Linked DNA regions of Homo sapiens: region 2 is linked to region 1. The links come from fine-mapping of genetic effects on gene expression. A gene starts in region 1. The other region holds a variant in brackets. All regions are shown on one strand. Distances are from middle to middle.

The links. PIP is the estimated chance that this variant, and not a neighbour inherited with it, causes the effect.
Region 2: its variant is fine-mapped to the expression of PDPR in lymphoblastoid cells (GEUVADIS, PIP 0.95).

Annotation. Positions count from the first base shown.
Region 1 is chr16:70,112,933-70,115,841 of GRCh38, forward strand. It overlaps PDPR (pyruvate dehydrogenase phosphatase regulatory subunit), which reads left to right and starts at 1,400. Exons shown (of 19, transcript NM_017990.5): 1 at 1,400-1,508; 2 at 1,889-1,998. RefSeq lists enhancers at 1,364-1,413, 1,934-2,876.
Region 2 is chr16:70,160,236-70,163,144 of GRCh38, forward strand. It overlaps PDPR (pyruvate dehydrogenase phosphatase regulatory subunit), which reads left to right. Exons shown (of 19, transcript NM_017990.5): 19 at 1-2,302. All of the region lies in intron 1 of LOC400541 (a long non-coding RNA gene), which reads right to left. Among named protein-coding and RNA genes, the nearest start is that of CLEC18C, 12 kb to the right of the region's middle. The variant C/T (reference allele first, on the strand shown) is at 1,420.

The DNA.
Region 1 (2,909 bases):
AGGTAGGTGTCCCCAAGCATTCAATCCTAGCTAAAATATGGAAGTATTTATCTAGCACAGGAGCCTATGGCATAGTTTCAGTCCACTGTCTGGCAGACCTCATCTGGGCTGTCTTTGTGTGATTTGACTGGCCAGTAAATGGGGTATAAACTATGTAGGCTGTGGCCTGGCCTTGTGACAGAGGGGTCCCTGGAACTTGACTGCCACTCCCTAAGAGCAGAAACCGCCTCTTTCTTGTACATTGCTGGATCCCATCATCCTGCACAGTGCCTGGCTACAGGTGGCCAGCAATAAAACACAAGATTGGGGCAGGCACAGTGGCTCACGCCTGTAATCCCAGGACTTTGGGAGGCTGAGATGGAAGGATCACTTGAGGCCAGGAGTTCAGGCCCAGCCTAGGCAACATAGTGAGCCTATCTCTACAAAAAAAAAATTTTTTTTAAATTAATAAAACACAAGATTGGTTTGTGTGGTGAGACAGTATTGAATCCAACAAACGGGAACTGGATAGTGTGGCCCAAGATGCAATGGTGGCTGCAGCATGAGACCCTTATGCATATAATATTCAGTGGAAGAGGTGCCAGGCACTGTTCTGGGTGCTGAGAATAAAGCTATGCATAAGACTAAGGTTCTGTCGACAGAGATCGTGTCACACCAGTGGAAAAGACAGTCATCAAACTTATATCCTTGAGTCAGTGATGAGTTCTAGAAGGAAAGAAAAGGCTGATGTGACAGTGAGGAAGGGATGAGTGGAGACTTCTCTGAGACTTCAGTGATTCCTCTTCCTCTGAGCTGAGCCAAGCTGAGAAGCTGAGAAGAGTAAGATAGGGCCGGGAACTCAGGTCCGTTAGTCCGTCCTCCGAGGTGGGGCGGGCCAGCAGAATGGATTTCCGATCTACTCTGTGAGAGCCTCGCCCAAGAAAGCCCAGAGCCACTTCCAAGATCCGCGCTCCCACGGCGATGAGAAGCGTTTTCCCCCGGGACTGCTTGGCTTAGGACTGGGGACCCACTGGCTTTGGAGTAAGCCCTGGCACGGGCCTCGAGGGAAGAAAGAACTCCCGCGCTCCCCACACTCCACAGGGCCTGCGATCATCTCAGATGTTCCGGTTCCACGTGCAGAAACCCCGCCGGTCCGAGGCCCCGGTTCTAAAACGGCCCTAAGAGTCAAGGCTTCCACAGCTCGCCTCTGAGGGTGGCAAAGAGGCCGCGGGGGCGGTGCCTCGCGAGACCCAAACAAGCCCACGTGGCAGGGGCGGGGCTCCGCGAAGGCGTCACGGCGCGCTCGTGCGCTGCTGAGGTCACGCGCCGGCAGTACCCTTGCCCGGGGGCCGTAAAGCGCGGAAGGTCGCGGTCTCGGCTTCCCCGGAACTTTTTGCTCGCTTCGCCCCGCCCCCTTCCCATCCCCGAACCCCGCTTTCCGGCCCGCGGCGACCCCAGGCAACTGTTGTGGCTGCCGCATTGCTCCCGCCGGGCTGTAGCTGAGCGCGGAGCCCGTGGGGACCGGTGAGGTAAGGAGATAGCTTCGGGGCAACTCTGGCCTCCCCGTCCGCGCGGGCCTAAGCGCCCCGGGACCCCTGGGTTCCCCTCTTTCTCCTTTGGTTTCGCCCGGGGGTGGTCCCCGCTAGCTCACGCTTCCAGTGGGTTCCGCCTGGCCTCTCGCGAAGTCGCGTCCGGGCGCCAGTACTCGTCCCCGTAAGGTTGTCCGCTCGTGCCTTGGCTTGTGTTCTCGGCTACCCCTGGGCGTGCGCACCGCTCCTCCAGGAGCCTGCACTTCAGCCCCGATGCCAGGGCGGCCGGGGTGACCTCGGGCTCCCCCGTCTCGGGCTTGCACACCCCTGCGGCGCAGAGCCAACTCCAGCTTGTCTAGCCCGGTCCTCCATCCCTGCAGATGGAACTGTTTTCCCGCGTTGAGACGTGCGGTCCGCTTGTGCTTTTAGAACTAAAGACTGCTGCAGAGTCCGGAGGAAGAAGTCACCTAGAAAAATCTGGGACAGGGCAGTAAGCTTCCTTCTTAATGTTTGACCTTTGGGGGCCGATGTGTGATACCTCGGATTTGAATCAAGAATCTCCAAGCCCATTTTCCGCATGCATGTAAACGTGATGTACCGGGATGGGGTCTGGTGGTGGAGGAGGAGCCAGCCTGACGGATAAGCTTTTCCAGTGGCAGGGACTTGTGTTAATTTCTTTTTTCTTTTTTTTTCTTTTTTCCGAGACAGAGTTTCACTCTGTCGCCCAGGCGGGAGTGCAGTGGCGCGATCTCGGCTCACTGCAACCTCTGCCTCCTGGGTTCAAGCAATTCTCCTGCCTCAGCCTCCCAAGTAGCTGGGAATACAGGTGTGCGCCACCACGCCCGGCTAATTTTTGTGTTTTTAGTAGAGACGGGGTTTCACTATGTTGGCCAGGCTGGTCTCGAACTCCTGACCTCGTGATTCTCCCGCCTCAGCCTCCCAAAGTGCTGGGATTACAGGCGTGAGCCACTGCGCTCGGCCAACTTGTGTTAATTTCTTAAACTTGCGTGATCACCTGGTGTACTTGTTGAAAAATACAGCTCCCTGGAGTGGCAGGATCAGAATCTGCCGAGGTGGACCGTGGGAATCTGTCATTTTTAAACAAGTGTCCCAGGTGGTTCTTTTGCTGAGGCAAGTGTGGGAAATGTTGTGTGAACCCACGCTCATCCAGTCTTCCTTGTGACCGGCAGTCCACTGTGCGCAACGCTGCAGCCATACAGAGGGACAACTCGAAGTTAGAACTAGCACCTTGGTCTTGTTGGAATAAGCAGATCTGAGTAGAGCCAGCTGCAGTCTTATGGTTGTTTAGCAGAAGTTATTCTTCTTAGCAGAGAATATTATACGGTCATTTTCCAGAACTGTAAAAACTCTATCATTTGTTTTAAACCAGATGATGTGCTT
Region 2 (2,909 bases), 47 kb after region 1:
ATCTAAGCTTGCATCAGGAAGATGTTCCTTCTGTGATCATTGGTACTGAAGCCAGAAAAGCTCTCATTCAGGAACTCTGAAGAGCAAAAAGGGACAAACACTAACTGCTGAGCTGGGCCATTTGATCTCCTTTCACCTTGCATTGCTGTCACAGCACCTTGTATGATGGCAGGACAGGCTCCAGCAGAGAGAACTGCACAGTGACCACTGTATTTTTCACGCTCTTCCAGGGATCCCTGTCCCCCGACATTGAAGAGATCTCATTCAGGCCAGAGACACAGAGACCACATAGCCCAGTGATTAAACCCCGGTTTCACTCTGGCCCCAGGAGTGGAGCCTGGCCACTCCTGTTTGGTTCTCACTGGGAGGCCCACTGGCCTTGGATCATCTCCTCATGCACACCCGGAGTTTTACCTGCTTGCTTGCTTTCCTGGACTGCTGTTTGCAAGAAAGTAACTAAAACATGAAAAGTAAACCTCCAGCTTCCACAGTATATTACCTGCCGTTGCATGCATTTGAAAGTTAGCCTCCTCCCTTGCCACCGTCTTGGTGGCAGTAGCGATGCAAGAATGATGGGAGCTTTCCGAGAGCGTTCAGTGTTTCACTGAAGACAGGACCCATAGCCTTCATTTCTGGCTCTGTGTCTCCTCTGGCATATGGACACATTTCCTGGCATTTGCCTGAGTCTACACCACTTTTTGAGAACCTGAAATAGAAGGGAATCTTCTGTGGCCCACAGTCTCCATATTGGCACTAGAAGACTGGCCTGGCGGAGGAATTTGCGTTGGCTTGCTTTCAGGGGTTAGCTACAAGATTCAGCTTTATATCTCTGTTGCTTCTTGGCCAGTGTAGTCAATAAGGGTCTTCTTTAACATCTAAGATAGAGGTTTGGTTGGCCGGGCGTGGTCGCTTACTCCTGTAATCCCAGCACTTTGGGAGGCCCAGTGAGGTGGGAGAATTGCTTGAACCCAGGAGGCAGAGGTTGCAGTGAGCTGAGATTGCACCACTGCACTCCAGCCTGGGTAACAGAGTGAGACTCTTGTCTCAAAAAAAAAAAAAAAAAAATCTAAGATAGAGGTTTGGTCAACAGTGCTTAATAATAAATAAGAACCTCCTGCCATTCTAATTTTCCTGCTGCACCCCATCCCCCACACACCCCTCACGAACATTGATATAAGCAGTATTAACACAGTATAAAGAATGTTCACCTTGCATATGTCATTTCAGGCACATGGATTCAGGAGAAGCACAGTTGAGTGGAAGAAATGGTAGACTTGTGAGGCTTGCCCCAGGCCTTGTGTACACGCAATAAGTGGTGAGCCATGGGTCTCTCCGTCAGCGCCTCCCTCCCCGCCACCACTTCAGGCCAACAATTTAAGGTGCTGAGTTGTAAGGCTCCTCCATTGTCAGTACAGGGCT[C/T]GCCTTTGTAGCCCTGATCACTACCAGTACACTTTTCAAGACAACTGAGTATTTTTGTATGCCTTTGCCTTCCCTTTGTCCATGAAACATGAAGAGTTGTTTATGGTTCTTGACTTCTCTGAGCAGAGTGTCTGCATCTCTTGGAGAGTTACACATTTCTTCATGAGCCATTTTTCTCATTCTTAGATGCACCTGTTTTTATCCTTTGCAGACCATCTTCTGCCTTCTTATTTTCCTGTCTGTCAAAGACAGAAATTACAGGAGATAGGGAGGGTTTTTTAGCATCTCTTTCAAAAGATGTATGTCAGAATTTCCTTTGCACACCAAGAACTGGAGCTTAGAGCCCCACTATTCTCTAAGCCAGGTTCTAGTGCCTTACACTCCAGAATGTCAGATGGTGGGTGCAGATTGGAAGAAAGAGAAAAGTTCATCTCGGTGTGTGGGTTCCCATCCGCCCCACATAGCCTCTCCTTCTTCGGAACAATGGGCGTGGGGTAGAAAGCTCTTTCAGTGAAGGGTGTTCTAGCAGCTCAGTTAACACTTTACTCTCCAGTCAACACTTGGGACATATAAAAATGCCATTGTAACTACTGTAGAGTCCTGTGACTCATCGTTTGTGTTTGTCAATTTGCAGTTCAGCTTAGCCCTTCCCTGTTCCTGTGTAGTTACAATCTGGCCCTGAAGACATCCGAGGCACTTCAGTAAGTGGGATCTTTTCTAGAGATCCTGGGTGACTTTGGGTGCACAGGGTGACCGAGCATTTCTGCCCCTGTGAATGTGGCACTAACACTGTGCACTGTCTCCACCAAGCAAGGTTTCCACTGAGTTTCTTCTCATGTTACTGGGTTTGTAAATGAATAAACACATTTTAACTACTCTTGCACGGCTGCTTGTGAAATGTTCTTCATCTGTAGTGACTTAAATGTGTTTGCCACCACAAAGCATAAACAGCGTGCAGAGGAGAGTGTGTACCTCCCTGTGTGTACCAGTGTGAGGGAGGATTTGGGGACGGGGGTAGAGAAGATGTAGGTGTTTATCTTACCCTCCCTGCAGCGCTGGAGTGGCTGGGGGTAAAAGCTTCCCGCCTCCTGAAATTCCGACCGGCCTTCTGCCTACAGCTGACCTCAGGAGGAACCTGCCACCTGATGTTCCACACGGGCACGTGTGCACTCAGGTTTGTGTGGAAAGCAAGGGGGGTCGTGTTCTCACCCTGTGGAAACAACCCTGAGAGAAACAACCAGTGCTCTTTTTCTACACCAGCTTCCATCCACAAGTTGGTCCCTGGACTTGACCTGTTCACTAATTTTTTTTTTTGAGGCAGAGTCTTGCTCTTTTGCCCAGGCTGGAGTACAGTGGTGTGATCTTGGCTTACTGCAACCTCCACTCCCAGGTTCAAGTGATTTCCTGCCTTAGCCTCCAGAGTAGCTGGGATTACAGGCACGCGCCACCATGCCCAGCTAATTTTTGTATTTTCGTAGAGACGGGGTTTC